Homo sapiens: one gene and its partners. The protein of the gene in region 2 interacts with the protein of the main gene of each other region in a pairwise test. Each region holds a gene or a part of one and is shown on either strand. Other genes may lie near its edges.

What was found.
Region 1: the proteins of SSMEM1 (region 2) and SLC35A4 interact in binary tests that used the Homo sapiens proteins (3 or more experiments, as listed by UniProt).
Region 3: the proteins of SSMEM1 (region 2) and AQP10 interact in binary tests that used the Homo sapiens proteins (3 or more experiments, as listed by UniProt).
Region 4: the proteins of SSMEM1 (region 2) and ALG3 interact in binary tests that used the Homo sapiens proteins (3 or more experiments, as listed by UniProt).

The regions. Positions count from the first base shown.
Region 1 is NC_000005.10:140,560,846-140,568,513, reverse strand, and holds the start of SLC35A4 (probable UDP-sugar transporter protein SLC35A4), read right to left. Parts: upstream 3,687-7,668; 5' UTR 3,671-3,686; coding exon of another isoform or gene 3,656-3,670; intron 2,642-3,655; coding exon of another isoform or gene 2,543-2,641; intron 1,950-2,542; coding exon of another isoform or gene 1,752-1,949; 5' UTR 1,345-1,751; coding exon 370-1,344; 3' UTR 1-369. Other genes in the region: SLC35A4 upstream microprotein, read right to left, coding at 1,752-1,949, 2,543-2,641, 3,656-3,670; APBB3 (amyloid-beta A4 precursor protein-binding family B member 3), read left to right, coding at 4,269-4,317, 4,599-4,762, 4,844-4,920, 5,791-5,851, 6,015-6,161, 6,287-6,414, 6,665-6,670, 6,792-6,927 and 2 more. UniProt on the Homo sapiens protein: Mediates the transport of CDP-ribitol. Does not exhibit CMP-sialic acid, UDP-galactose and UDP-N-acetylglucosamine transport activity.
Region 2 is NC_000007.14:130,203,453-130,211,545, forward strand, and holds the start of SSMEM1 (serine-rich single-pass membrane protein 1), read left to right. Parts: upstream 1-4,407; 5' UTR 4,408-4,458; coding exon 4,459-4,641; intron 4,642-5,834; exon of another isoform or gene 5,835-5,961; coding exon of another isoform or gene 5,962-5,973; intron 5,974-8,093. Other genes in the region: TMEM209 (transmembrane protein 209), read right to left, coding at 336-394, 522-658, 1,921-1,923.
Region 3 is NC_000001.11:154,316,466-154,324,092, reverse strand, and holds the start of AQP10 (aquaporin-10), read right to left. Parts: upstream 3,001-7,627; 5' UTR 2,938-3,000; coding exon 2,833-2,937; intron 2,164-2,832; coding exon of another isoform or gene 2,161-2,163; coding exon 2,034-2,160; intron 1,112-2,033; coding exon 974-1,111; intron 853-973; coding exon 734-852; intron 505-733; coding exon 287-504; intron 1-286. UniProt on the Homo sapiens protein: Aquaglyceroporins form homotetrameric transmembrane channels, with each monomer independently mediating glycerol and water transport across the plasma membrane along their osmotic gradient. Could also be permeable to urea.
Region 4 is NC_000003.12:184,245,923-184,254,023, forward strand, and holds the start of ALG3 (dol-P-Man:Man(5)GlcNAc(2)-PP-Dol alpha-1,3-mannosyltransferase), read right to left. Parts: upstream 3,041-8,101; 5' UTR 3,019-3,040; coding exon 2,823-3,018; intron 1-2,822. Other genes in the region: EEF1AKMT4-ECE2 readthrough transcript protein, read left to right, coding at 3,773-3,968; EEF1AKMT4 (EEF1A lysine methyltransferase 4), read left to right, coding at 3,773-3,968. UniProt on the Homo sapiens protein: Dol-P-Man:Man(5)GlcNAc(2)-PP-Dol alpha-1,3-mannosyltransferase that operates in the biosynthetic pathway of dolichol-linked oligosaccharides, the glycan precursors employed in protein asparagine (N)-glycosylation.

The DNA of each region.
Region 1 (7,668 bases), on a different chromosome or scaffold from region 2:
TTGTTGCCCACACCCCACTTTCATCAACTCTGTTCATGCAGGACAAAGCAGGGAGCTGCCCAACAAGGATGGGGTTATTTCTCAGGCCTAGGTATTGATGTTACCTTAATTCTTTAGTCTGGAAGAACTTGGTTGGGGGTGGGGGATGGTAAGCATTTCCTTAACCAAACCCACACTTCACATCTCCTAGGGGTACCCCTTCATCCACCAACCTCCAGAGAATAACCTGGCTGCCCTCACTTCTCCAGCTTTTCTCACAAGGCACTTGTTACAGGGCTGCTGATGGGAGAGGGAGGAAGGCCTGGGAGGGGGATCTGGTGGTGGCGCCCAATCTACAGGGTCCGGAATCAGGGTGGAAGTTGTCAGGGACTAGCGGCTGCCATAGTACAGGCGCATGGCCAGGCCAATGAGCAATGTGGCCAGGAAGAAGGCGGCTGTGAGCTGCAGCCGTAGCAGGACTGCTGAGAGCACGGCGTTGACCACCAGCGAGCAGGACACCACAAAGAGGCGTGTGATGCTGCTGCCATGCTTCATGACAGCAGACATGAGCAGTCCATTTAGTGCCTGGCTCAGCACCACGAGTGCTGCCCATCCTGAGAAACCTTCCAGGAGGCCTGGGCCAGAGCCGCCGCCAGCATGCAGACCTAGATTCAGAAGCACACCAAAAGTGTAGAGGAAGAGGTTCTGAAGTGCCAGGGGCAGCCGCTGTCGCTTCATGAGCAGCTCTGTGTACACTGACGACAAGCCTGAGATGAGGCAGTACAGAATGAGGAGCAGCAGGCCTAGCGGAGTGATATGCAGGGGCATGGGGCTGGCAGCAGCTGCTGGAGGGGGACTGGGAAGGGTGTTCCCGGGAACTTGAAGGCCCCCTGCTGCATAGCAGGCTCCCGCAGCCATCAGCAGCAGCAGCGCTAACCCCTGACGCACAGAGAGGCGGTGCCGGAGGCAGAGGCAGTAGAGCACAGCTGTGCTTCCAATCTTGAGATTACTCAGCACCTGGTAGGTGCTGGGGTCCATGTAACGCTGAAGATAGATCACCAGGTTGTTGTTAGCGCCATAGAGCAGGGCTGATAGTGCGAAGGGAGCAGCCTGGCGCCAGGGTGGGGGCCCCTGGGGCCATGCTTGCCAGCCTACCAGAAGGGAGAAGGCGCATAACAGTAGCTTGGTCAGCTCAGTCAGCAGCACGGCTGAGGAGGGCCGGAAGGGCACTCGGCCGTCCACATGGCACAGTGCCAGCAATGGGGCATGGGCACCGTACATGGCAGTGGATAGGAGTAGCATCAGGGTCCAGCGGGCCTGCCTGGGACGGCCCAGGCCTGGCATACCCCCATCCTCTACACTCATACCCACACAAGACCCTGGGTGGCTAAGGGGCAGCAGGGATTGCAACACGTTTGGGGAAAATCAAGTTATGGAGCCAGCTCCCAGGAAGGAGAAGCCGTGGAACATTGCCAGAGAGAATACTGAGGATCAGAGGCATCTACCAACTCCACAGTCAGGGCTTGAAGAGTAAGGGGCTGGTGGTCCTTGAAGCCACAGTCTTGGGGCGAGTCCCATGGAGCTAGGAAGGGGAAGAAGGAATCCAGGGTGCAGGCTGAGGAACTACTGTCCACAATCTGCAGGAAGGGAGGCAAGGATGAAGGTGGCAGGAAAGTTGGAGATAGCAAATGGATGACAGCTGGGGAATCCAGATAAAGTGTCTCCACCTGAAGGCTGAGCTGCTCATCCTGCCTCTTCCATGGCACCTAGAGCTAGTCGGGCCCCTTGCGTAGCAACTGCAAATAGTCCCTTAATGTCTTCTCCACGTTGGGCACAGCATATGCCTGAGCCGCATAGATGCCAGTGCAGGTGCCCACAGCAAAGCCCAATACTGCTGATGCCCTCAGTTTGGCCACCACATAGCCAGCCAGGAATCCCTTGAGGAACGGGGAGGACAACAGCGAGCCATCCTGCAGAGAAAAATGCAGAAGGAAACTTAGCTAGGCTCCTTCCTGACTGTCCAGGGGCTACTCAAGCTGGGATTAGAGCATTCCACCACCAGCTCCTCCTCACCCTGGACAACCGTGGTATTTTCTCCAGATTTTTCCCAAGGTTCTGGGGCCAGAAAAAGAACCAAGCAGTTCTGATCACACAATCTCAGAACCCTGGGGTCAGAAAGCTCCAACCATAGAACTCCACCGCCACACAAGGTCAGAGATGCCCCTAGCCCTGCCGGTTTCTCCAGCCTCATTTCCTAGCATGCTCCCCAACTACTGTAGCCAAATGGACCTCCTTTCACCCCTCATGTTTATAATGCTACTTCCTACCACAAGGCCTTTACATATGCTGTTCTGCCTGGAATGTTCTTTCCTCCCCTCTTCACCTACTTAACCACTACTTAAGATATTAGTTCATGTGCCATTCAGAAAAATTGTCCTTAGGGTGACTGAGAATAGGCCCTCAATAATCACTTGCTGAAGAAATCTCTACCATCCATTTAACACTCTCAAGAGCATGTTGGGCAATAAAGCCTAAGGCAGGGGTGGGGTGGGACAGTCCTTACCTGGCCCACTCCACTGTTGACTTCGTCTTCTACACGCCGCTGCAGGCTTTCCAGCTGGTTCTTGAGAAATGCCAGGTCCTTAAGCTTAGGCAGAGAATCCTAGGACAAGCGAGAGGCTGGCTCCAGCAGTCTGACTAAGCCCCACCCCTTGCTCAATTCCATCAGAAGCTGGGAATTGGGAGGGGATGGGGTGAGCCAGAAAGACCTTTTCCTATAAAAGCTTCCTGAGATGGCAGTGGCAAAGAAAGACAAGCATTGAAAAGCACAGAATTCAAATGAGGGCCAGGAAGGGACTGACAGATGGGATCTGAACCAGTAACTTACATCAACCTTGACAAGAATTTTATATAGCAAGCAGTATGTAGGAAAGGCAGGAGGGACAGCTAGGGACCTTTAATTAGGTCCATCAGGAAACCACTACTGACTCCATTATGAGCTCCTTGAAAGTCGTGACCAGTCTGTCTTGGCTACTATGTTCTAGTGCCTGACATTTAGTAAATGTGTGGGTAATGCTGAGCTTCTAGACCAATGGTGAGTAATGGACCGAGGCAGTTTCCTGGACAATTTTATTGTCTTGGTTCCTGGATGGGCTTTACCTCTTTCTTCCCAAGGACATCCCAAACTGAATGTGAGTGACTGGATGTGACTGAGAATGACAAAAAAGACTGTCGGCAAGTGTGTAAGTAAATGGACTGAGTGATTTTGATCGCATATAAGTATGAAATTCAGAATGTATGCAAAGGAGTGTTTGAATGAGGGTGGTGTGAGTGTCCGTGTGATTGGAAACATCGTGTCACTGGGAAGAAAATTTCGGGAGCTAGGGAATGGGGTAAAGTGAGGAGTGTTTAAGGGTGAATGTTTTTGAGTCTGTGCTAGTAACGGGTTCGTGATGGTTCCCAGGAGGGGACATCTGGGGGATCCACGGCTCCTCCCGCCTCGCCGAATGCTCTCCCCACACCACTCCACACTGTTGAGGCAGTTGACAGGAGCCGCAGAAGAAACAAGGGACATCCTCACTCCTGAGCCGCTCCAGAGTCGCTTCTCCCCGGAACTAAAAAGGTCAAGGAGAGTGAAGACCACGCCCGGCTGCAGATCACCCCCACGGCCACTCACCTTGTCATCCGCCATCTTCCCCGCCGAACTTGTTGCGCAGGCGCATCCCCGCCTCCCTCGTGCCGACTGCCCCGGCCATCTTTACGGAGGGCGAAGGCACTTCCGGAGCATTTTTGGAAAGGGGGAGGTGCTTTCCTAGTGGCCAAGTACGCCTCTCTCAGATACTTCCACGTGACCCCCTCCCGTCGAGTCTCAGGCTGCGTGTGAGCGCACTCACGACCGGGGCGCGATGATCTCACTCGTGCGCGAGTGCGCGCGGCGCATGTTCGGCGTGTCGGTCTTCAGGCGCCTGATGAGTTCATAGTTGGGCGGTGGTGTCAGCGGTTTCGCTGGCGTTCGTGGGCCTCCCCCGGACCCACACACGGAAACACGCAACCATTCGGGGATCCAGACGCCCGTTTACACGCACCACCCCTGGGCGGGCTGTGCGGCTCAGGCCCTCCCCCGGGACCGGCCCGTGTCCCGCCCCGTGTCCCGCCCCGTATTTGTGCGGCGCCAGCTGGCCCCGCAGCCTGCGGCGCAGAGAGGCTGGGCTTGCAGGCGCAGTAGCTCCAGAGGTCGCGCTGGGCTGAGAGTGCGGGCCGGCAGAGGCTGGCGGGGAGCAGCCGGGGTTATGCTGGGCAAGGATTACATGCTGGCCATCATTCTGGTCAACTGCGATGGTGTGCACGGAGGGGCCCGGTGGGAAGACCAGGAGCTGAGGGAGGACGAGGGAATCCGAAAGGCTACTCTGGGGCTCAAAGACGGTGGGGGATACCTCTCTGTGTAGGGACCAGGGGGCGAATGAACCCGGTCTTTACATGTGATGTCTTCAAGATTGAGGAGCCTGGATCTTCAGCCTAAGAACTGACCCATTTTGGGGATGGAGAGGGGATTATGACAGCATGTTATTCTGAACTCACAAATCATATGCTCCCTCCTCTCTAATCCGGTGTTCCTGTAGATGACTTGTGGGGGGACCACAGTCTGGAGGTGGAGGCTGGCCTGCCTCCTGGCTGGAGGAAGATCCACGATGCTGCAGGTACTTACTACTGGCATGTACCCAGCGGTAGCACCCAGTGGCAGCGCCCAACCTGGGAACTAGGAGATGCAGAGGACCCAGGCACGGTAGGTAGAGTGTGAGGAGGAGGTCTGAGCCCATGTGTGGACCTAGGTCTGCTGTTAAACTGACTAACTCCCACTCTACAGGGAACGGAGGGGATCTGGGGACTGCGGCCCCCCAAAGGGAGATCCTTCTCCAGCCTGGAGAGTTCACTGGACCGGAGGTAACGGGTGGCCCAGGCAAAATGAAAGGCTTGGGGTTCCATGGTGTTCAAAAATGCAGCTGGACCCATGGTCTGCTTTCCAGCCCAGGTTCTGGATTCTGTCACATGTTTTGGGTTCTGTTACGTTCTTGGCTCTGTCCCAGGTTCTTAACTGTCAGTATTTTGAGTTTTATCCCTTGTTCTAAGCTCTTGTTTGTAGCTACATGTTTTTCATATTCTTGGTCCTAACCTATCATGTTCTAGACCTTGGCCATTAAGTCCTCTGTTCTAGGGTCTCTTGTCCCACTTTGGGGTTCTGGTCCACATATTGGACCCTGTTCTATTTTGTGACTTTTATTTTTTATTTTTTGAGATGGAGTCTCACTCTGTCATCCAGGCTGGAGTGCAGTGGCACGATCTTGGCTCACTGCAACCTCCGCCTCCCAGGTTCAAGTCATTCTCCTGCCTCAGCCTCCTGAGTAGCTGAAACTACAGGCACATGCCACCATGCCCAGCTAATGTTTGTATTTTTAGTAGATATGGGGTTTCACCATGTTGGCCAGGATGGTCTCGATATCCTGACCTCATGATCCACCCGTCTCAGCCTCCCAAAGTGTTGGGATTACAGGCGTGAGCCACCACTGCACCTAGCCTTGTGACTTTTATTCTATGTCCTGTGTCTGGGTCCTATGTCCTGAATTTTCCCTCAAATTCTGAGTCACACTTTATGTTACGTTAATATGTCCTGGGCTCTACCCTGCTCTGGTTTTATATTTCTGGTGCTATATTCTGGGTCTTGCCCCTCATCCTGTGCTTATCAAGTTGTCTAGGCCTCACCAGTGTCCCTACTGTAGGAAATGTGGTCCTCTTAACAGCTCTGCTCTGTTTCAGTAACTCTCTGTCCTGGTATGGTGGGGAATCCTACATCCAGAGCATGGAGCCAGGGGCTAAGGTAGTGACTTGGGCCTGAGGGCATTGGGAGGTCCCAAGGGAAAGACAAGGGTGGGATTGGACTGAACAGAGGTGATCAAGGGTGAAGACAGGGAGTATGTATTGTGGCACCTGCCACCCTACTCCATCCTTATTAATTCCTGTCCCTTCCCCCAACCTGTCAGTGCTTTGCAGTCCGCTCTCTGGGCTGGGTAGAGGTACCTGAAGAGGACCTGGCACCGGGGAAGAGCAGTATTGCAGTCAATAACTGTATCCAGCAGCTGGCCCAGACCCGCAGCCGGAGCCAGCCTCCAGATGGTGCCTGGGGTGAGGTGAGTTGGCTGGGCCCTTTAATGGTTTGGGCCCAGGGCCCAGCAGAGGTAGCTGTCCCTGAATTTCCTATTTCTCATGGCAATGACCTTTATCTGAGCTCTGGGCTGACCTCTGTCCTTGGCAGGGCCAGAACATGCTGATGATCCTGAAGAAGGATGCCATGAGCCTAGTGAATCCCCTGGACCACAGTCTGATCCACTGCCAGCCTCTGGTGCACATCCGTGTGTGGGGCGTGGGGAGCTCCAAGGGCCGGTGAGGATGCCTACATCCCCCAAGCAAGAGCTACTTCTCCCTCCCGGCTGCAGGCTGTGATCCCCACTGATGCTGATCCCCAGTACTTGAACCCCTGGACACAGATCCTCTGATGTGGACCCAGGACTGCTTCCCCTGCCTGGTCCAGCCCTGGTTGGGGAGGGTGGGCCCAGCTCAGCAGGGACAGTTTGGGGAGAGTCCGAGAGGCTGGGCTGATTCCCTTCTGTGCTCCCACATGCTTCCGGAACAGTGACAGGTGAGTGAAAACCAGGTATCCTGAGCCCCATCCCTGATGTCCCTACTCCATCCCTGCTATATCCCTAGCCTGACTTTCCAGCCTCCTGCAGGCTCCTGCCTCTAACCAGCTTCTACCCCAGCCCCATCTCTGCCCCTGCTAGGGACTTCGCTTTTGTGGCAAGTGACAAAGATAGCTGTATGCTCAAGTGCCATGTGTTTTGCTGTGATGTCCCTGCCAAGGCCATTGCCAGTGCCCTACATGGGCTTTGTGCCCAGGTAAGTGTCAGGGGTGGGGCAGGGAATGTGGGTAAGGGGTTGGGTCTGAAGCTTCCAAGGTAGTTGGGGTGGTATTGGCCCTTTTACCCTAATTCCCCTCTCTCCCTGTGGGTCATGCTGGCTTCATTGTGTTTTAGATCTTGTCAGAGCGAGTAGAGGTCAGTGGTGATGCCTCTTGCTGCTCCCCAGACCCCATCTCTCCTGAAGACCTGCCACGGCAAGGTATGGGGAGGGGAGACCTGCATTGCTGCATTGGGGTGCTTTGGTGCTGCTTTGTGGGGGGGCGATTTCTGGTTATTTAATACTTCTGTGGATAAATTTCTGAGATGTCTGGTCTCAGGGATCCCAAGCCACTAGTTGGAGGAGCATCTATGAGCCATTTCTTCTACCAGCACCAGCTCTGACCTGAGTCCTGGCCCATTGAGAAGGGTGGGGAAAAGGGTAATTGAAAGAGCTTCCAGGCCAACTTGGTGTGTATATTTCAGTGGAGCTGCTGGATGCGGTAAGCCAAGCTGCTCAGAAGTACGAGGCACTGTATATGGGGACACTGCCAGTCACCAAGGCCATGGGTGAGGACTGAGGGGGCTGCATGTGGTGGGCTGTGTGAGGCAAGGGGAAGGTGAGTGAGGTGAGGCCTGTTATCATTTCTCAAGAGTCCTCCCGTGGCCTTGTTATGGCCTGGGGTCTACCAGCCTTCCCAAATCAGAATTCTAAGGCTTGCCCCAGCTATCCTATTCCCTA
Region 2 (8,093 bases):
GCAGAAATCTGGGCTGGTCTTGAAAAGTAAAAAGGTAGAGACACAGAAAGCGCATTTCAGGAGAGTAATAAAAACAAATCTCACTAACCTCTAAACTTATTTTTCTTCACAGAACTCATAATTACCTGAAGTGTTATTAATCTGATTGTCTAACAGAATGTTCCTTTCATAATAGCAGGGATTTACCTTGCTCCCTTTCTGCTGTATTCCCAGTTTTTACAACCCAGCAGGCAGTCAAATACTTGTTGAATAAGGAAATGTATACTAAGCTGAATTAAACCTGAAGGCAGTTTTTTATTGGTAAATGTAAGTTACAGTGAAAATTACTTACTTACCAATATACCAGAGGGGCCAGTATGTCACATTGTAGTATGAACTAATCAATTTTCCAGTCCTGAAAAAAAATTAGAAAGGCTTTCCAGTGAACCTAAAAACACCAAAAATCAAAAACAAACACAAAAACCTGTGGAACCAGCCACTGGCTTCTTAAAGTTTCACTTTTTTTGGACTGATTCACTTACATTTCAGTATATATCATTCCAGCCATAGATACATTTAGGAGTCCCCAGGCTAAGACCACTTTCCTAGCCTCTGTTTCTTTTCTCATCTTGATGGTTCTGTCAATAAGGGAAGCACTAGGGTGTGCCTCCCCCTGCATCTATGAAAAAACAAAAAGCACAGGAATTAACCAGAAGAAACTATTGCTCCATTTAAAAACCAAATTTTGCATCCCTTATAAAGGTAACTGAAACCGCATATACCTTCTCTCATCTTTAAAATGTTTTATCAAAACTTCTTCCATTTTAATATCAGTATATGAAAAGGGAACCCAAAATTATATGTAACTTAATTGGCATCACAGTGTAATCAACAGAGAAGTGGCTGGTTATTTATCTATTTATTTGTTTTGAGACGGAGTCTTGCTGTCTCCCAGGCTAGAATGCAGTGGCGCGATCTCGACTCACTGCAACCTCCGCCTCCCGGGTTCAAGCGATTCTCCTGCCTCAGACTCCCGAGTAGCTGGGATTACAGACGCCCGCCACCGCGTCCGACTGATTTTTGTATTTTTAGTAGAGACGGGATTTCAACATTTTGGCCAGGCTGGTCTCGAACTCCTGACCTTGTGATCCACCCGCCTCGGCCTCCCAAAGTGTTGGGATTACAGGCGTGAGCCACCGCGCCCAGCCGTGGCTGGTTATTTAAGAACAATTTAATACTTCCAATACATAAAAATGTCTTATTTTGTAATTTAAGGGTTATGTCTAGAAATACTTTGTATTTTGTCTTTGGGGTATGTTACACGGACTAGGCAAAAGGCTAACTTCAGAAACTCAAAATGTCAAGTTTTGGGAGACTATATTCCATATCTGCTGTAAGTCATAAAGACTGTTGTACATCCTCATGCAGACGCCATTACTATCTCAACAACTCTGCACTTGGACAGCTGTACTCCAGGGCTCTCCCTTTTGTGTGTGGATAAAGGACAAGGATCCAAGTTTTAGAAGGGCACGTACTTATGATGGGGTGGTGAGCGGAGTAAGAGGGAGAGAGGGGAAAACGTGCATTGTTTTGGTCCACATTTGGGATTTATAATTCCTCCTTTCTTCAGCTAGGCTCAACTCTTACAGACCGTGCAAAACTTGTTCCAGCGACAAGCAGTCGTATCCCACAGAGGACAGAGCAATAGCTTTCGCGCCACTCAGCCCCCGCGTCCCAATTTCCCAGTCCAGAGCTTCCCTCCCCGGCTCCTGGGCACGAACTTCAGCAACCCTATTGCTTCTTTCTTCCCTTCCCCTAGAGAGGCGGAACGCCTAGCCACATCCCCCTTGGCTGAACCCAGGACAGATCAGCAGGCGCGGAACTCCCACAACCCGCGTAGATTCCAAGACAGGAAGCACAAACACGACCCCGAAAACGCACCATGTCCTCTGGCCGGAAAACGCAGGCTCGCGCCACTCTCTCTGGGCATGCGCAAAGCCAAGCTCAAGCGGGAGGCCACCGGCAAGCGGCTCTAAAGTTACCGGAAGAACTAGGTAGTCTCTTCTCGCGAGAAAGGGAGGGGTCGCAGGCCCAGGCGCTCGGAGCGTTACCAGGGAAACAGGTCTCGGTTTTGCGGCTCCCACTCAGCTGCGGGAGAAAGCTAAGCAGCAAAATTCAGACCAGGCTCTGAACCCGCAGTAAAAAGTAATAATTGTAACAAGCTGAATTTTGTATCTATTAATATAATTTTAGCTTCCCTAGGGCATTTATGGACTCACATGTGTAAACTGATTAAGTAGGGCGGCTCACCGTAGGATAGAGTGGCGTGATAAAGTGGCCAGACACCATCAGTGACAAAGCATTTCTTTCCCCTGTGTTAAAGTATCTATGTCAAGAGTCCTGACCCCATGTAATTTTTTTTTTGGTAGAGACAGGGTTTCGCCATGTTGGCCAGTCTGGTCTCGATTTCCTAACCTCAAGGGATCCGCCCGCCTCAGCCTCCCAAACGCCTGCTGGCCTCCCACCGCCTTTTGGGATTACAGGCGTGGCCCACCGCGCCCGGCCTAAATTCTTAATCTGTTTAATAGGGTGCAGCAATAACAAGCACACCCAAAATTTGTTTTATTGAAGTTGCTAGTGGTTTTGAGGTTAAAAATAATAACACATTTTCGTATGTATTTTTTGGAAGAGCTGCTCATCCTGAGGAAAAGGTTGAGCTTTGTTTTATTTAGCACAAATACCTACAAGTGTGCCGCTGAGCCAGGCGCACGGATATAGAAAATAAGACCTTCCTGGTTATTACCCAGAGGAGCTCAACCCCAGCGGAGGCCCACAGATGCATTTCGGTGGCAGGTGAGGTGGATGCAGTGCTCCCCAAGGAGGCGCATCCAGCCCAGCCCCAGCTCTCGCGAGCTTCCTGGAGGAGATGACGCGTTAGAGTCCACAGCCAGAAACCCAGGGCCTGGGGACTTGTTCTGAAGTGTGCCTCCTAATAAAAACATTAAGCCATGCCACAGTAAGCTAGTGGATTACATCATGTATGTCCAATGGCCAAAGTTTTTCCTAAAATGATCCTAAGATTAATACCACGTGGTATTGTATATTAATGAAAATCGGCAGGTATGCTGTGCTCTTGAAGAGCTGTTAAGTTTTATCATTTTTAGATTGCTTTAGCAGCAATGTTGTTTTGCTCTAGTTTTAGATTTAGAGATGAACTAACTGGAAAATTGTTCAAAGTGAAAGGGCTCAAGGTGCAATCAAAATTAGAATACCGGCCGGGCGCGGTGGCTCACGCCTGTAATCCCAACACTTTGGGAGGCCGAGGCGGGCGGATCACGAGGTCAGGAGATGGAGACCAGCCTGGCCAAGACGCTGAAACCCTGTCTCTACTAAAAAGACAAAAAATTAGTAGGGCGTGGTGGCATGCGCCTGTAATCCCAATTACTCTGGAGGCTGAGGCAGGAGAATCACTTGAGCCTGGGAAGCCGAGGTTGCGGTGAGCCAAGATGGTGCCACTGCATTCCAGTCTGGGCGACAGAGTGAGACCCTGCTAAAAAAAAAAAAAAAAAAAATTAGAATACCGGTTTCCCACCCCCTCCATATGTGACTCTTTCCTAAGAAGAAATTGTATGCATTTGATGTAGTTCATAGTAGTTCATAACGGGCACATCTGTGTTTTTCCCTCTTAATCTATAAGCTGTTGTGCATTTATTCAAGGCTTAAAAAAGAACACCACTGACCAAATGACAGCATTATGTATTAGGGCTGCCATAACGCAATATCACAGACAGGTGGCTTAAACAACAGAAATTATTTTTTTCATAATTTTGGAGGCTGGAAGTCTAAGATCAAATTGTCAGCAGGGTTGGTTTCTCCTGAGGCGGGTCTCCTTGCAGACGGCCCCCTTGTATTGTGACCTTGATTTCTGTGCTCGTGAATCCTTGCTGTCTTCTTGTAAGGATACCAATTGTATTGGATTAGGGCCCTTATGACCTCATTTAACTTTAATTACCTCCTTAAAGGCCCTGTCTCCAAATAGAGTCACACTGGAGGTGAGGGCTTCAACATATGAATTTTAGGGAACACAGTTTGATCGGTAATACATTAGAACTGTCTATGATAATTTGCAATGGCATGATACATATAAAAGAGACTGAATTAAAATGAGTGGATACATTAAACACTTAGACGTGAAGATAGGAAAATATAGCATATACAAGTTTTAGGAAAAAAAATTAAGGCAGAATGCACCATATTGAGGTATGGGGGAAAATAACATAAACATTCAGAGGAGTAATTTGAATAACCTTCCACAAACTTAGAAGTCCAAGAAGCATTTGTCAGTTCCTAGAACAGTTGCTTAAGTATGTGTCATAATAGGTTGCCAAGGAAATTGTCATACATCATAGAGGGAGTGAAGTAGTTCCCAGTCATCTTTATCCCTTTAAGCATGGTTTATTTTCTGAGCAAGGAGTCATCATGGGAGACCTTTTTTCCTTATTTTGGGAGGTAGATCCTCCCCCAATACCTGTAAATTGTGCCATTCCAAATCAGGATTATGAATGCTGGAAGGATGACTCTTGTGGAACCATAGGGAGCTTCCTGCTTTGGTATTTTGTTATCGTATTTGTCCTGATGTTCTTCTCTAGGGCTTCTGTCTGGGTAGGATATCTTTTTTTCATTTTAAATAATATGTTTACTGTACACTAGGAAAATTTCCATAAAATACATTTACTATACTTTGATGAAACTACTTTTAAAAGTTGTTTAGTTTTAAAAATAATGCAATCTTATTCTGGAGAATCCAGGAATATGGAAAAGGATGAAGAGGAAAATATAAAGCTACAGTTATCCTCTTTCCCAGAGATAACCACTGTTAACATTTTGGAGTATGTTCTTCCAGTTTGGTTTTTTTCTCTGCCTTTCCCAATATATCTCTCTCCATTTCTCTATCTTTGATCTTACATGGTTGGCATTATATTGCATATATTTTCATATCCTGCTTTTTAAGCTTAATAATATATCAGAAATACTTCTTTAAATTATATTCACTCAGCAGCACTTTTAATGACTGCATAATTTTCTATATTTTGATTGCACCAAAAAATTGTGCAAGTTTGAAACATTCAGATTGTTTACAGTTTATCCATCTGCTATGTAATGCTGGCATAAACCTCCCTGCTGGTTAATGACTTCCAAATCCCTTTTCTAGCCATGTGATTCTAATCAAAGATATGAAAGTTGTCATATTGATAGGATACATGCTGTAGGATTTTGGGGTTTTTAGAATGAAGCAATACGCTTTCTGCACAGAATAAGCAGAACTAGACTAAACAGAACTAAAGTCACCACTAAAATGCCATCGTCTTAAGAATGAGATATCCCACTTTATCAGGACTGTGATGCTTCCAACATATTATGAGTAACCAAGCTCTTTTTTTTTTTTCTTGAGATGGAGTCTTGCTCTGTCACCCAGGCTGGAGTGAAGTGGTGCAATCTTGGCTCACTACAACCTCCGCCTCCCGGATTCAAGTGACTCTCCTGCCTCAGCCTCCCTTGTAGCTGGGACCACAGGCGCAAGCCACCACGCTCTGCTAACTTCTGTATTTTTAGTACAGATGGGGTTTCACCATGTTGGCCAGGCTGGTCTCAAACTCCTGACCTCAAGTAGTCTGCCCGCTTTGGCCTCCCAAAGTGCTGGGATTACAGGCATGAGCCACCGCGCCCAGCCGTAACCAAGCTCTTATAATTTGCTGACATGATATCCTTGCTGGCCATTAATACCAGGCTGATGATTAAGAAAACCACCATCATTTAGCATTATAGCCATAGGCCTGGGCTGGCAGTGGTAAGACTTAATGCTCTATGAGCTCGGATGGGGTGGAGAAGGTTTGTTATGTCCATGCCAGCTGGATTCCATTCTAATCAAAGACTCTTTGATAACCACCACCTCCTGGTGAAGAACTTTCATCTAAAGTCTAAATGCTTCTTAAGGTAAATACTTTGCCAAAAGGAGATTTAGAATAATGATAGCTTATATGTGTCTTAGACTCCCTAGCTAAGTATATTGAATTTGGCCTGGCAAGCAAAGCTACTTTAGAAAATTACCAAAAAAATTTCATCATGAATTAAGAGGTCTAAGCTATTTTTTTTATTTTTATTTTTTGAGACGGAGTCTCGCCCTGTTGCCCAGGCTGGAGTGCAATGGCACGATCTTGGCTCACTGCAACCTCAGCCTCCTGGGTTCCAGTGATTCTCCTGCCTCAGCCTCCTGAGTAGCTGGGATTATAGGCGTGCATCTCCACGCGCAGCTAATTTTTGTATTTTTAGTAGAGATGGAGTTTCACCATGTTGGCCAGGCTGGTGTCGAACTCCTGACCTCGTGATCCACCCGCCTCGGCCTCCCAAAGTGCTGGCATTACAGGCGTGAGCCACCACGCCTGGCCCAGTCTAAGCTATTTTTTCTGCTCCCTTGCTTGCATCAGCTCTTGGGAGTCATACAGCCTTGAGCTTCCAGGACCTCAAGAGAGCATGTGGTCCAGCCTTCTGTTTGTAGGCAAGTAAGTTATCATTATCCCTCCCCCACTCATTTTTTTATTGATAAGCCCCAAGTAAATTAAGTGACTTGTCCAATGTCACAAAAGTGTTAGTGACAGAAGGGGAATATACCCAGATTTCCTGTCAAATTATTTGTTTGCTTCAAAGCATAGTTTGAAATGTCCACTTAGATCTACTCAGTCCTGATTAAAACCTTAATTATTTTAGAGGTTTCGTTTTTCACTTTGTACCCTTGTGGCAGCTACAATCAGCTAGACTGCTTCTTCTGAAGGGTCCCAGATTTGAAATCTGAGAACAATATGAGAGCTAGTAAAGGAGGATGGAATTTTTCCTTCACTTTGAACTTCTTCATTTTCTCTGCTAAACTATGAGGCTTTATTTACAAACCTTGAAGTAATGGTAAAAGCACGATGGAAATGTGGTGGTAATTATCCTCCAACATGAAGCACGCTGATTTCCTCTGAATTTGCCACTTTTTAAAGTGGCATTTACCCTTTTGCTTTCAGACTATAAATACTATATTTAGTTTATATTTTTATTTTGTGTTTATTCAGATTGCTAGTGCTGGTATTTTTCTGGACAATGGTAATCCAAACACCTTATTTTGCTTATGTGGAAACTGAGCTTAAGAGGTGTTAAGTGGCTTGGAAAAATCAAGAGTTGTTAGTGGCAGAAAGAGAGCCACGGCCCACATTTTCTACTCTGCCCCTCAGGGCAGGCACTCCTGCTGTTTTCACTCACTGAGTCACAAAGACAGTTAATAAAATGCTTTTCGTAACCACAGTTCATATGATCCCACTTAGTTTAATGCAAAATCTTTCTTTTGATTTTGTGGCTATGTTTTGATTTGACATCAAATGTGAGAGCTTTCTGTGGAAATGATATAAGCCTAATAAGTGTTTTTAAATACCTTCTCCTGTCTATTACAAAAGTACACATTATATAGAAAATGTGGAAATTATAGGGCAGAAGACAAAATAAAATAAAAATCACTCCAGATTATGTAGAAATAACCAACTACTGTTAACTTTTAGGTTTATAAACTTCCAATTATTTTGATTTTCTTTACATATATTAAATTTATTTTTTTCCTTTTCTATAACCTAAGTGATACATATTAAATTTAAAATATTTAAGCCTCTTCCAAAAGCATTTTTTATAAAGTGGTATCTTTTTTTTTTTTTTTTTGAGACAGAGTCTCGCTGTCACCCAAGCTGGAGTGCAGTGGTGCAATCTCTGCTCACTGCAAGCTCCGCCTCTCAGGTTCACACCATTCTCCTGCCTCAGCCTCCTGAGTAGCTGGGACTACAGGCACCCACCACCACACCCGGCTAATTTTTTTTGTATTTTAAGTAGAGACAGGGTTTCACCGTGTTAGCCAGGATGGTCTCGATCTCCTGACCTTGTGATCTGCCCGCCTCAGCCTCCCAAAGTGCTGGGATTACAGGCATGAGCCACCGTGTCTGGCCAGAAAGTGGTATCTTAAAAGTGAACTCCGCTTTCAAGATTTTTGGAGAATGATTGCTGTAACCCAGAAAACAAAAAGGCACCTCATT
Region 3 (7,627 bases), on a different chromosome or scaffold from region 2:
TCTTGCCTTAGGGAATTATCTGAATATATTAATTTTGCTGATGAAGTCACTAATGTGCATGGAAGTAATGTGGCATGCCTAAGAACACAACCTCTAAATCTTACTGTTTCAGTGAAAAGTTGGGAGGGAAGCAAGGGAGAAAGGGGGAGAATATGACTTGGAGAAAGAACACTGTCCTAAGAAGCCAAGAGAGCTATTTTAAAGGCAGAGTGCTGTGGACCCAGGGACAGAGCCCTTAGCAGAGGAAGGTGAGTGGAGGCCAGCACCAGGAGAGTCTGTCTCCCACCTGAAGACTTCAGGACCCCAGCCAGCCACGTAGGTGAAGAGACGTGGGCCCAGGTCCCGGGCAGGGTTGAGTGGAATCCCGCAGTTGGCACCCATGGATAACCCGAGGGCCAGGATCAGCATCCCCACCACCACAGGCTCCAGACCCGCAGGGACTCCCTTGTTCCGTCTGTCCAGGATGGCCAAGAGCCCCACAATCAGCATCCCAGTGCCCAGAACCTTGGAGTCAACAGAGGCAGAGGGTTCCCTGTCAGCTGCCAGGTGCTCCATCTGCCCTCTCTCATCCAAATATTCCATGTCATCTGGCTTTGTGCAACACAGGCAGTTGGGGATGGTGGGGAGTGCCAAGATAGACCCAACCCACACTCCACCCAGAGACTGAACAATAGGCTGGGGTGCCGAGGAACAGGACCAAAGTAGTGTCCCCAGGTCTCCCCCTCACACTTACCTGATCCAGGAAGCCATTGTTCAGGGACAGATAGGGGGCAGGATAGGTGGCAAAAATGGAGGCTGTCTCCTTGGGGCCAGTCACTGTCAGGTTCCCACCTGTATAGTTCTGTAGGGCATCTGTGGAGGAAGGGAACACCCAGGATTTCCCTCTTTGCTCATTCATCCAAAACCATTCTGAGGCACCCCTGCCCACCCACAGGTGCTCTCAAGGCACAGCTCCCTCTGTTCCCTCTGTCACCATGGTAGAGAACATAGGTGGCTCCCGAAGCACAGAAAGCAGACAGCAACTGCACCAAGATGTAAATGGGGAGCTTGACCCAGGGGAGGCGTCCAACGATGCACATGGCCAGGGAGAAGGCTGGATTCAGGTGGGCCCCTTCAAGTATCAAGGAAAGAAAAAGAGCATCTATTAAGTGTCACTGCCAGGCATTGTCACCAGACAACACTACTGCTCCTTCCTATAGCTCTTAAGGCAGATAGTGTAATTCTCATCACACAGCTTAGGAAATTGAGGCTCCAGATGTTACAGATGTTAAGTGACTTAGCAAAGTCACACTGTGGGCCAGGCACAGTGGCTCACGCCTGTAATCCCAGCACTTTGGGAGGCCGAGGCAGTGGATCACTTGAGGTCAGGAATTCCAGACCAGCCTGGCCAACATGGTGAAACCCCGTTTCCACTAAAAACACAAATATTAGCCAGGCGTGGTAGCAGGTGCCTGTAAAATCAGCTATTCGGGATGCTGAGGCAGGAGAATCGCGTGAACCCAGGGGCAGAGGTTGCAGTGAACAGACATCACACCACTGCTCTCCAGCCTGGGCAACAGAGTGAAACTCCATCTCAAAAAAAAAGAAAAAAAAAAAAAAAAAAGAAGAAGACACTGTGAATCCAAAGTTGGAACCTAGGTCTGTCTGCTTTTTCCACAGCAACACACTATGTCTCAAGGCTCCACCCAAGCACACCGATGCAGTGTGTATCTGGGGTACAAACAGGAGAGGTCCTGAGTGGAGATGAGCCCCCAGAGGACTTCAGGTGGGGGATACAAGAGGATAGCAGCTGCCCTTCGTGCCCTGCCATTGATTTCTGTCTAGGTGAGCCAAGCATTAGTGTGAGGAAGCAGGATGGAGAGATACAGAAAGAGGAGGGGCTGGTGGGGCCAAAGGCTTATTTCAGTCTGGGACACTGTTCAAGGGGATAATGTCCACGAGTCACAGAAGGATTTGCGTTTCCACCATCACCAGACAGACAAACTGGCATGCACATCCCACGTGCTCTGATGACCAGACCCCACCCTCCTCACCTGAGACGTTACCACCCACGTAGATGGCTATCGTAACGGCCAGAGAGCCAGCCAGAAACATGGTGAAGAAGTTGCCTTTGGTTTCTCCACTGGTGACAGCCTGGGCCACAGCTCCTTGGGTGAGGAGCTGCTGAGAAGAGGAGAGATGAGGAACAGGGAGCCCAGGAGACCAACAGGGAGAAAGGTTGGGAAGGCCAGGGGAGCAGCCAAGGAGATGAATGAGCACAGAAGACAAGCAAGGGAAGGAGAAAAGCAGAAGGAGGGAAGGGAAAAGAAATGGGGAAAGTGGAGGAAGAAGAAAGGGAAAGAATGTGGGAAAAAAGAAAAGAATTTACCCAACTCATAGGCATTTGAGGGTACAAACCCATGGCAGGGCTCAGCTTTAAAAAGTCTTATCTAAGATTCTTTCTATGGAAGAGTTCCATCAAAGCCAATTTTAAAAGCCTATGTGAAAAATAATTATTCTTGCTGCACTTTATACAATCATCAGGCCAAGTATAATAAAGCACATTGGTCTTACCATGAAAATGGTCTTTCATAAAAATGGGAAACTGAAGAGAGAAAAATTATGTTTCAAGAACTATGATACACTTGTTATTAAAGAAAGAATAAAAATGACAAGAATAAAAATGATGAAGTAGGAGAGGAAAGGAGATTAGGAGAGACGAGAGGATAAAAACGAAAAGTGATAGGGAGTTGAGAGGAAGGGGGACACCAAGAGAAAGAGATAAGGACAACAGAAGGAGCCAGGAACTTTTGCCCAACCCCCTTCTTTCCTTCCCGCAGTGATCCTACCTACCATGAGTACAAACACACCCAGAAACTCTGCCAGGCACTGCCGGGCCAGGAGGCTGCGTATCCGGAGGTGGCCCATGATTTCAGCCGGGGCCTGAGTGAAGACCATGGTGGAAACACCCTATTGCTATTCACTGCTCCCTCTGTCTGCATAGGCACACTGTCACTGCACAGCTACTGCCTGCCTCCAGCAAAGATAAGGAACAGACTTTAAAACCATTAGCTCAGTTCCTGAACAGCAGCTACGTGTCTGTGCACGTGTGTAGGCTAGGAAACAGAGAGATAACAAGAGAATGTCTGGGAGCAGGCTATGAACACAGAGCCTGGAGTTTACCCAACCTCTGTCTCTTTTACCCTTCATTCCCAGTCATCACAGGACTAGCCTCCCCCATCCTGACAAATAGAAGGAAGTACCCCGCTTCATAGACATTAGATCTCTTGGTCCTGAAGTCAGCTCTGCAAAGTAGTACTATTGCTTCCATTCTACAGATGAGGCTAGTGGGCCTTAGAACTCCCCAAGATCAAACTTTTTTTTTTTTTTTTTCTGAGAGAGAGTCTTGCTCTGTCCCCCAGGCTGGAGTGCAGTGGCACCATCTCAGCTTACTGCAACCTCCACCTCCCAGGTTCAAGCAATTCTCCTGCCTCAGCCTCCCAAGTAGATGGGACTACAGGTCCATCACACCTGGCTAATTTTGATATTTTTTAGTAAAGACTTGGTTTCTCGGGAGGCCGAGGCAGGCAGATCACGAGGTCAGGAGATCAAGACTATCCTGGCCAACATGGTGAAACTCCATCTCTACTAAAATACAAAAAAATTAGCGTGGTGGTGCACGCCTGTAGTCCCAGCTACTCGGGAGGCTGAGGCAGGGGAATCACTTGAACCAGGGAGGCGGAGGTTGCAGTGAGCCGAGATTGTGCCACTGCACTCCAGCCTGGCAACAGAGCGAGACTTTGTCTCAAAAAAAAAAAAAAAAAAAAAGACGGGGTTTCACCATGTTGGCCAGGCTGGTCTCAAACTCCTGACCTCTAGTGATTCACCTTCCTTGGCCTCCCAAAGTGCTGGGATTACAAGCGTGAGCCACCGTGCCCGGCCCAAGATCACACAATTATTTCATGGCTGAGTGAATTCAAATCCAGATTTTCTGACTCTCCAGCTGGTAACCCACAAAGCCTCTCATTTAGAACCTGAAGCCTTACCCCAAACCATTTGGATGCTTGAAGAACTCAATAGGCATCTGGAAAGACTGGGCTAAAGACCACAGACTGTGGGAATGAAACTCACATATTGAGTGCTTGTACTTCCCTTATGCCGAGTGTCACATAGGTTAGAGAATACTCCATCTTTGTGTCCCCTGACATGGCTTGACATGAGGCCTTCACACTCATGCTGAGCTCCACCTGGCCTTCTCTGGGTGCATGCCACTCTTGCTCTGCATGAAGTAACCGCATCCTACTTCTTCATATCTCAAGGCTCCAATTAAATGCATTCAAAGAATCTACGTCTAGACACTGGAGAAACAGTGGTGAACAAAACATAGTCTCTGCCCTCCTAGAGCTTATGTTCTAGTAGGTGGAAACAGACAATATGCAACTTTTTAAAATACCATATACAGTTTATGAAGTTCTTGAGGGCTACCATTATGATTTATGTAACCCTGTGGGCTCTACCACTGTCCTGGGCACATCTGTGTGACTAGTAAAGAAATAATATTTCTTTACTAGGTTTAATGGATACTATAGTGCTCCACCCAGATTCCCCCTTGGGAGCCAATATGCCCATTCGCTACATGTAGGAAATACCAGCTGCTGATACCACATAGCTACCTCCCTCATTGGGCAATGCCCTTCAAGTCAGAAAGATGCCTCACCGAAGGTTACATGCCCTCCTATGGGGCCCATGTCAAACACTGATTGATGGAGGGATATAAAAGTCTAGCCTCTTTGCCTCACTTTGCGACAACTCTAAAGGGCTGTTCCAGCTCCAGTTCCCCCATAGGATCCATTTAGGCATCTGTTATATCATCCATGTGTGTCAGTTTCTCCTGGTGCCTAATCTTGTTACAGGAAAGGGGTCTGAATCCAGATCCCAAGAGAGGGTTCTTGGATCTCACACTAGAAATAATTCAGGCTGAGTGCGGCGGCTCATGCCTGTAATCCTAGCACTTTGGGAGGCCAAGGCGGGATCACAAAGTCAGGAGATTGAGACCATCCTGGCTAACATGGTGAAACCCCGTCTCCATTAAAAATACAAAAAAATTAGCCGGGCATGGTGGTGGGCGCCTGTAGTCCCAGCTACTTGGGAGGCTGAGGCAGGAGAATGGCATGAACCCGGGAGGTGGAGGTTGCAGTGAGCCGAGATCGCACCACTGCACTCCAGCCTGGGTGACAGAACGAGACTCCGCCTCAAAAAAAAGAAAAAAAGAATTCAGGGCGAGTCCATAGAGTAAAGTGAAAGCAAGTTTATTAGGAAAGTAAAGGAATAAAACAATGGCTACTCCATAGACAGAGCAGCCCCGAGGGCTGCTGGTTGCCCATGTTTATGGTTGTTTCTTGATGATATGCTAAACAAGAGGTGGATTATTCATGCCTCCCCTTTTTAGACCATATAGGGTAACTTCCTGTCATTGTCATGGCATTTATAAACTGTCATGGCATGAGCCACCATGCCCGGCCATGACCTGTATCTTATGGCAACCTCCTATCTCATTCTGTAACTTAGAATGCTTTAACCATCTGGGAATGCAGCCCAGTAAGTCTCATTCTCATTTTACTCAGCTCTTGTTCAAAATAGACTTGCTCTGGTTCACGTGCCTCTGACATTTCCCCCCTTCCTTTTATAAGAGAAGCACTAATCCTAAGGGTTGCAGAGGGACGAAGGTCCATCTTCTGTAAGTTCTTCAGGATGAATAGGGGCGATGATATTTTTGCCTAACTCTTAGAATCTCTCATATTCGTGGTAGAGAGGAGCTCAGTTGGAAAGTGTTGGTATGGGCCAGGCGGGATGGCTCATGCCTGTAATCCCAACACTTTGGGAGGCTGAGGCAGGCGGATCACCTGAGGTCAGGAGTTCAGACCAGCCTGGCCAACATGGTGCAACACTGTCTCTACTAAAAAATACAAAAAAAATAGCCAGATGTGGTGGCGGGTGCCTGTAACCCTAGCTACTCAGGAGGCTGAGGCAGGAGAATCTCTTGAACCTGGGAGGCGGAGGTTGCAGTGAGCCAAGACTGTGCCATTGCACTCCAGCCTGAAAGAATGAAACTCCATCTGAAAGAAAAGAAAAGAAGGGAAGGGAAGGGAAGGGAAGAAAAAGCATTGGTATCTTGAGGGCCATTCATAACTCATGAGTTCTGACAAAAGGTGATACTCTGGAAGATTCATAAGTGTTCAGTTTAAGGAAACATTCAGTAAGCTTGTCCTCCATTCCTATACAAAGATTACAACAGCTATACATTCCACAACCATAAAGCAAAATAAGTAAAATTATCCCAAGTAAACTAAACTAGAAGGCTTTCCATGAACTGAGGAACTGTTGGAACCACGCTGATATGAGGTTGCTAGATGATTCCAGTACATGCCCAGAATTAGAATATTGATGCAGATTTTTACATTACCCATCCCTCTTGTTTCTTCTGAGCAGCAGTCAGAGGCCACTGGTTGGTTCACAGGACTAAGCAGGGTTAGCCTAAATTGCAGAAACAAACTTAAAGACAACTGATGAGACTGGAATTTAATAACAAGTGTATCATAGTTCTTGAAACATAATTTTTCTCTCTCCAGTTTCCCATTTTTATGAAAGACCATTTTTATGGTAAGACCAATGTGCTTTATTATACTTGGCCTGATGATTGTATAAAGTGCAGCAAGAATAATTATTTTTCACGTAGGCTTTTAAAATTGGCTTTGATGGAACTCTGTTCCATAGAAAGAATCTTGGATAAGACTTTTTAAAGCTGAGCCCTGCCATGGGTTTGTGCCCTCAAATACCTTTGAGTTGGGTAAATTCTTCCTCTCCTTTTGAGGTCCCCAGATAACTTGGGGCTCCTGGACCTTTTAGAAGGTGACATTCTTTACTTACCACAGGTCAGAAACCCTGTACAGGGACTGTGTAGGCAAGGTTATGAGCCCAGGTCGCTAAGTGGCTTTTATAGGCTTTACAAGTCAAGTTTGATTCCTTAATGGAAAGCACACCATTCCAGTCAAACCCTTCATAAAATAAACAATTTCTCCAATTGTGTCCTGTTGCAAAAGAAAACAGATTCTTATTACCCTTATGCAAATAACTGCATTGCCATAAATTAAGAATACACACAAATAATTTCCAAATTCTGGAGAAATCAAGTAGAGAGATGCATATACTCCAAATTTTGTTCACAGGAGTATACTTTACTCGATTATTAAAAGCTGTAAATATCTGAAAAGAAAAGTTGCCTTGACTCTAAAAAATAAAACAAAGGATCAGCAATGTTTTAAGCAAAGGCAAAAAGATTGCTTTAGTCTTCTTTAGTTTATGCAGTTAACTTTTGTTTGATATCTATGAACATTTCAGCTCCCCATGAGAGTTCTGAAAGTTGTTTCCTCTATTCTAATGTCACAATCTCCAAAGTTATCAGAAACCTGCATTTAAGTGCACCTGTTAAAGTCCTATGGCTGATTATAAACTACCTTCTAAAGAAGATCAAAACAAGACAACAATTGTCTGTGGATGATAAAAAGTCTTAGGGCCAGGTGCAGTGGTTCACATCTGTAATCCCAGCACTTTGGGAGGCGGAGGCAGGTGGAACATTTGAGGTCAGGAG
Region 4 (8,101 bases), on a different chromosome or scaffold from region 2:
TACTACCTCTTAATCTAACTCTTTATCTGACATTCTCTGGGTGAGCCCAGGCATCTCAAACTCAACATTTCTATAAGTGAATTTGTGATCTTTCTTCCCATTCCAATCTACTCCTTTTCCTGGGTTCCGCAAATGGCACCACCGACCTCTTAGCTACCAGGTCACGAACCTGAGTAACATCTTTGATACTCCCTCCTCTCTCATTTGCAACCCTTCGTCAACAAGTTCTGCCTGTTCCTCACCGTAAATATCTCTATCTCATCCTTCTCTGCTACTACATACTCAAATTTGAGCCTAAAGTAATCTCTAGCCCCAATGAGTATACAATAGCCTGCTAATTAGGCTCCTGACTTCTACTTTCACCCTGCTACAATATATTTTCCACCTCGTACACCAAAGAGCTCCTCCTAAAATACAAATCATAACAGGCCTCTGCTTAAAACCTCTCAATGATTCCCCAAGACCCTTAAGATAAAGAAAACTCTGTATTATTCCCATTTTTTGAAGGGGAGCCTAAGAATTAATTAGGTTAAGTGACTGGCTTAAGATAATTGAGCTAGGATGGTGGAGTTGGGATTGAAGCTTGCAGGGTCCCAAGTTCTTAATTATCATGCTATCTTCTTAACAAAGCTTTCAAATTCCTTCATGATCTGGCCTCAGTTTCTGCATTCCCATCTCTTACTACTCCCTTCACTTGATTTCTACACTCTAGCTCTAAAAAAATCATTTCAGTTCCTCAAAGGAACCAGGCTGTCTTCTTTTTTTTTTTTTTTTGACAGAGTCTCACTCTGTCACCCAGACTGGAGTGCAGTGGTACGATCTCAGCTCACTGCAACCTCCGCCTCCCGGGTTCAAGTGATTCTCCTGCCTCAGTCTCCCGAGTAGCTGGGACTACAGGTGTGTGCCACCATGCTTGGCTAATTTTTTAAGTTTTGTATTTTTAGTAGAGATGGGGTTTCACCGTGTTGGCCAGGCTGGTTTGTTTGTTTGTTTTTCTTTTGAGACAGGGTCTCGCTCAGCCACCCAGGCTGGAGTGCAGTGGTGCGATCTCAGCTCACTGCAACCACCATCTCCCCGGTTCGAGCCATTTTCCCATCTCAGCCTCCCAAGTAGCTGGGATTACAGGCACTTGCCATCATGCCCAGCTAATTTTTCTATTTTAGTAGAGACAGGGTGTCAACATATTGGCCAGGCTGGTGTTGAACTCCTGACCTCAGGTGATCTGCCCGCCTCGGGCTCCCAAAGTGCTAGAATTACAGGCATAAGCCACCGTGCCCAGCCAGGCTGGTCTTTAACTCCTGCCCCCAAGTGATCCGCCCACCTCAGCCTCCCAAAGTGCTGGGATTACAGGCATGAGCCACCGTGCCCAGTCTAACTGAATTTTTTTTTTTTTTGACACGGAGCTTGCTCTGTCACCCAGGCTGGAGTACAGTGGCGCAATCTCGGCTCACTGCAACCTCCACCTCCCGGGTTCAAGCAATTCTCCTGTCTCAACCTCCCGAGTAGCTGGGATTACAGGCATATGCCACCACGCCCAGCTAATTTTTGTATTTTTAGTAGAGACAGGATTTCATCATGTTGGCCAGGCTGGTCTCAAATTCCTGACCTCAGGAGATCCACCCGCCTAGGCCTACCAAAGTGCTGGGATTACAGGCGTGTGCCGCTGCGCCCAGCCTAGCTGGAGATTTTTAATAGAGGATCCTCTGTCCACAGCACTCCTTCCCCTCACCTTTTTCTTCTTTCCTTAAATAGCTAATTCCTACCTTCCAAGGGTGGCTCTATGAAGCCTTTGCTGACTCCTCCAACCTGGTTTAAGTGACTTCCTATGCCCTTTATGGTATCCTGTGTTACTACTACCATGATTATGATGCATTATAATTGCCTGCTAACTTACTGTCCAGGCCCGAGTTAGAAATGCATCCTTTTTCTTTTTTTTTTTTTGAGACGGAGTCTTGCTCTGTCGCCCAGGCTGGAGTGCAGTGGCGTGATCTCGGCTCACTGAAAGCTCTGCCTCCCGGGTTCACGCCATTCTCCTGCCTCAGCCTCCCGAGTAGCTGGGACTACAGGCGCCCGCCACCATGCCCGGCTAAATTCTTTTTTTTTTTTTTTTTTCAGTAGAGACGGGGTTTCACCGTGTTAGCCAGGATGGCCTCGATCTCCTGACCTCGTGATCCGCCCGCCTCGGCCTCCCAAAGTGCTGGGATTACAGGCGTGAGCCACCGCGCCCGGCAGAAATGCATCTCTTATTCACCACTGTACCTCTCTCTGGTAACCAGCATAATGCTAGGCATATAATAAGCACTAAATAAATATTTGTTGAATTAAGAGTCTTTAGCAAGAAAGCCAAGTGCCTTAAGCCTAGAGTATAGTTTCAGCCTGGAAAGGAGTAGCCAATAATGCCTAATGGACTCAAGTGGTCACAAGATGCCATCATTGAGAAGGGACGTTCAAAGATCACAGAACTGAACACATGGAAAAAGCTGAGATCCAGGAGGAGACCTGAGGTGTCCAAAGCCACAGAGAAAAGCAGCAGCAGCAGCAGTACAACAATTTTGGCTCAAATCTGACTTCTAAGCTGGTTTGCAGGCTGTAAGTTCAGTGCAGAAGGCCAATCTCTAGGGTATCCACCTCTGCCATGCGGGCAGATTAAGATCCGGTTTTCTGTAGAGCAGGCTTGGCGCTCAGGTAAGGGATATGGATGGGTTCGCAATTGACGAGTGAGTGGATACAGAGTCTGGTTTGGAGTTCCAGGTCTGAGATCCAGTTTGGGTCGCGGGTTCAGGTCTCCCTCCCTCCCCTCCCCTCCCCCTCGGCGCACTCACATGCCACCCTGTGAATGACCCAGAAGGTGATGCCCACCTCCGCCAGGCAGAGGCAGGCGGCCACCAGCAGCGTGTAGCGCGGCTCCCGCAGCAGCAGGCGCCGCTCTTGCCAGGCGCGCTGCAGCCATTGCTTGCAGAGTCCCTCTGCCTGGGCCGCGGAACCGGACCGGCCGCGTTTCCGCAGCCCAGCCGCCATCTTAACGGTGCGCCGCTTGTGTGGGCCCACCACCCCCGGAAACCCGAACCTTCGACACTTAGGTTCCGCTTCCCGTGCCTGGCGTCCCACCAGGCTAAGCGCCGATCCGAGTAGCCAGTCTTCATTTACTCCACTAAAATGTAATTTTTCTGCATTTGTCTCCTCTGATGCACTCCACGCTCCATAGGAGCAGGGACAATGTCTTACTCCTCAGTTTATACCCAGCCCTGGGTACACAGGCGCTAATTTAGAACGAATGTCCAGAAAAGCAACATTCCTGCCTACCTCCCCCACAACCGCTGAAGCCAGCATTCTCCTTCGCCTGCGCTGGGAACATCTGTGTTCATGCTGTCTCTCCAGGAGGGCAAAGCCCCTGTTCGCGCCCCTCCTGCCTGCCCTTCGAGCCTTCCGGATGCTGAGAAAAATGAACCTTTCACTAATTTTCAGATTTCCTGATAAAAGTCATTCATATTGAAAATATGAGAGGACGCAGTGATGAGCCCACGTGAGTCTGACACCTTGAGTGCGGCCCTAGGAAATGACTTGGCAGTACAGCCGGAGGATTCAGGGTCTGGACGATAGTTTTCCCAGCCGGAGGATTCTTCGAAGAGCGCTTAGTAAAGGACGGAAGTTCCACGTGTTTGTGTTGAGCAACTGCAGGTGGTGGGCGGAGACACCAGCGCCCCGCCTTCTGCATCCTGCCTTCCGTATTGGCTGAAGGGCCGGCGGCTCTGGCTGCCCGGCGGTTGAGAGCATGGCCTCTCCAGGGGCAGGTAGGGCGCCTCCGGAGTTACCGGAGCGGAACTGCGGGTACCGCGAAGTCGAGTACTGGGATCAGCGCTACCAAGGCGCAGCCGATTCTGCCCCCTACGATTGGTTCGGGGACTTCTCCTCCTTCCGTGCCCTCCTAGAGCCGGAGCTGCGGCCCGAGGACCGTATCCTTGTGCTAGGTGGGTAATCCCGGCGCGGCCCCGCCAGGTAGAGCTGGCAGGACCGGCGCCGCATGGGCTTGGCCTGGTCCGCTTTCCTCCCGCCTGTCTATCCCTCTTGGAGGACGCCTGCGTTGGGACGCGAGATCCAGCTCCTTCAGAGTCCCGGCTGTATTTAGTCAAGGCTAACAGGAGTAAGAGATTGTTGGTCCCGGGGCCCTCTGGAGAAAGACAGTCCCTCAGAGTTTGAGCGTTGGGGGTACCCAAGACCCTGTCCGGACCCTCGGGAGGCAGGCAGCCTTGGGGACCGGATTGCTCAGAGGACCGAGATCAAGTCCTAGCGCTAATTGACTTGTAAAACTTAGGACAAGTCATGAACCCGTTCTGAGCTTTAGATTCAGTTCTAGAAATGGTACTGCGAGTTCACATCGGAGGCGGCACGCGCAGGCACCTCGAGAATAATGCCCAGCGCTTTTCTTTTTGCCCCTGGGCACTGGGAGCCAGAGTCACCTAGAGAGAGTCCTGTCTGAAACTTGGTCCTATGCCTTAGAGAGTGAGAACAGCACCCTCTAGGGGTGGAGGGGAGATTGCCGCCCAGGGTGATACGATTCCCCAAAGGGAGACGTGCTGGAGGAAAGGTAGGGCTCTGGGGTGTTCGGCTGACCTCTTGAGGTTCTCTCCTAGTGTCAGCCTTGGAGGCGCTAGTAAAGTTTGAATGAGCAACAGATTTTCTTCCAATTGTCGTTTTTACTTTGCTCTTTGTAAAAGCCTTTGTATGTTTAAGTGAAGTCTTTAATAAATAAAAAAGGTATATGTAATATATATGTAAGGTATAAATAACAAATCTAATGTGTGTGTCTATTCCACTCAGTTTGAGAAATAGAACATTACTAGGGATAGAAAAAAAAGTATAATTTAGTGGTTAATAACTTGGCTGGGCGCGGTGGCTCACGCCATTAATCCCAGCACTTTGGGAGGCCAAGGCGGGCGGATCACCTGAGGTCGGGAGTTCGAGATCAGCCTGACCAACATGGAGAAACCCCATCTCTACTAAAAATACAAAAAATTAGTCGGGTGTGGTGGCGCATGCCTATAATCCCAACTACTTGGGAGGCTGAGGCAGGAAAATCGCTTGAACCAGGGAGGCGGAGGTTGTGGTGAGCCAAGATCATGCCATTGCACTCCAGCCTGTGCAAGAAGAGCAAAACTCTGTCTCAAAAAAAAAAAAAAAAAAAGAAAAGAACTTGGACTCTGGGCTGGCCTCATGATTCATGCTCATAATCCCAGCACTTTGGGAGGCCAAGGTGGAAGGATCACTTGATCGCAGGAGCTCAAGACCAGCCTGGGCAACATAGTGAGATCCCATCTCTACAAAAAATTTAGGCCAGAGCAGTGGCTTATGCTTGTAATCACAACACTTTGGGAGACCAAGGCGGGTGGATCATTTGAGGTCAGGAGTTCAAGACAAGCCTGGCCAACATGGTGAAACCCCGTCTCTACTAAAAATACAAAAATCAGCCAGGTGTGGTGGCACGTGCCTGTAATCCCAGGTACTTGGGAGGCTGAGGCAGGAGAATCACTTGAGCCCAGGAGGTGGAGGTTGCAGTGAGCTGAGATTGCACCACTCCACTCCAGCCTGGGTGACAGAGTAAGACCCTGTCTCAAAAAAAAAAAAAATTAAAACTTAGCTGGGCATGGTGGCCTGTGCCCATAGTCCGAGTTACTCAAGAGGCTGAGGCAGGAGGATCGTTTGAGCCAGGAGATCCAGGCTGCAGTGAGCTGTGATGGCTCCAATGGGCTCCAGCCTAGGCGACAGAATGAGACCCTGTCTCAAAACAAAGCAAAACAAAAAACAAACAAACAAAAAACCACCTTGGACTCCAGAGGCAGTGAATTATGTTGGAATCTTGGCTCGGCTTATACTGGCTGTGTAATCCTGGACAAAATACTTGAATTTCTGTGCTTCCATTTTCTCAACCTTAAAAACATAAGCATATTTATTAATTGGGCTTTAAGTTGATTAAATGAGCATGAAGGATACCTAGAACAATGCCTGGCAAAATGAAAAGTATATTCAAGGTTCTCTGTGTGGTCCTCCTAAAACCCCTTCTCCCCACAAGTAAACACTTTCTTGAATCTGTGATTTTAAACCATTGCACTTATTTATAGATTTACCTTAGATCTGTTTTCTCAAGCTTTAGTGTGTATCAAAATTACCTGGGGAACTAGACTGCACTGTGAGATTCTAATTCCAGGGATGGTCTAATGTGGGTCTCAGGAATCTGTATGTTCAACAAGCTTCACAGCAGATTCTTATGCTGGTGATTGGCAGAGTAACACTGCCTTAAAATCTGCTTGACTGGTTTTTCACCAAACTGATGCTTTAAAAAAAATCTGCTTAACTGGGAACTATCCTTTTCTGGATAGGAGGGGCAAGAAGTCTAAAAATCAAAAGGGGAATTTCTAGAATCCCCAAGATGTAAGAACAGGACCCACAACTTGGGAAATACTCTACGTTACATTCCACCTCAACAGACTTAAGTTGAGTGCCTGATAAGAGCCAGAGAATGTGCTGGGCCCTTTCTAACTTACTTAATCCTTATGACAACCCCTGAAGACAAGTCAAAAGTACTAAGAGACTTACTCCAGGTTAGGGGTCTGTAAACTTTGTTTGAAAATGGCCAAACAAGTAAATTTTTTAGGCTTTGCAGGCTACACAGTCTCTTTTACAATGACTTGGTTCCGCTATTGTAGTGGAAAAGCAGCTACAGACAATACAAAAGTGAATGATGGCCGGGCAGGGTGGCTCACGCCTGTAATCCCACCACTTTGGGAGGCCGAGGCGGGCGGGTCACCTGAGGTCAGGAGTTCGAGAGCAGCCTGGCCAGCATGGTGAAACCCCGTCTCTACTAAAAACATAAAAATCAGCCAGGTGTGGTGGCAGGCACCTGTAATCCCAGCTACTCCAGAGGCTGAGGCAAGAGAATTAATTGCTTGAACCAGGGAGGCGGAGGTTGCAGTGAGCCAAGATTTCACCACTGCACTCCAGCCTGGGTGACAGGGTGAAACTCCATCTCAAAAAAAAAAAAAAAAAAAAAAAAAGTGAATGAGAATAGCCATGTTTCAATATAACTTTATCTAACAAAATAGGTGGCAAGCTGCATTTGGCAACCCCTGCACTCATTGTCTTAGATTGAGTTCCCCAGAAGCAAATCCTGAGATGAGGATTCATGTCCAAGTTACTTGTCAAGAATGTGCTCCCAGGAGAATTGGTAAGAGCTAGAGGGAACAGAGAAAGGGAAGAAGCAAAGTTTCCCTGAAGGTAGTTTCAGCCTGAAGAGTCACAGATGTACACCATTAGAAGCAAACACACACCAAAACCCAGGGATATAAAAATAAAAATCGGTAAAAAGACTCCCAGGGCATCTGGTCAGAACACTGACAGTGTCCACTACTGTCATGCAGCAAGGAAGTGGTAAAGTAAGGGTGCTTTGTGACACCACACAGATGGGAGTAGGGAGGCATCTGGAACTCTTAAAACTGGTAAAATGACTACATTGTGAATTATAGCCTAATGGTCATATGGATATAGCTAACAATGGAATGTCACGACTGAAGGTGAGTGGGCCTCTTGAAAACTGGGAGGCAGTTGAACACAGTGGTTTAAGAGCTCTGGCTCTGGAGCGATAGAGGCCTGGGTCCAAATTCTGGCTCTTCCACTGACTATGTGACCTTGAGAAAGTTTCTTACCACTTTCCTCAATTTTCCCATGTAGAAAATGGGAATAGTAATAATAGTGTCTTTTTTTTTTTTTTTTTTACATGGAATCTCGTTCTGTTGTCCAGGCTGGAGTGCAGTGGTGCAATCTCAGCTCACTGCAAACTCCACCTCCTGGGTTCAAGCGATTCTCCTGCCTCAGCCTTCCGAGTAGCTGGGATTACAGGCGCCCACCACCACACCTGGCTAATTTTTGTATTTTTAGTAGAGACGGGGTTTCACCATGTTGGCCAGGCTGGTCTCCAATTCCTGACCTCAAGTGATCTGCCCGCCTCGGCCTCCCGAAGTGCTGGGATTACAGACATGAGCCACTGTGCCCAGCCAATAGTATCCTTTATATGGCTCTAACATGAAAGTAAACTGAAATAATTCTTATA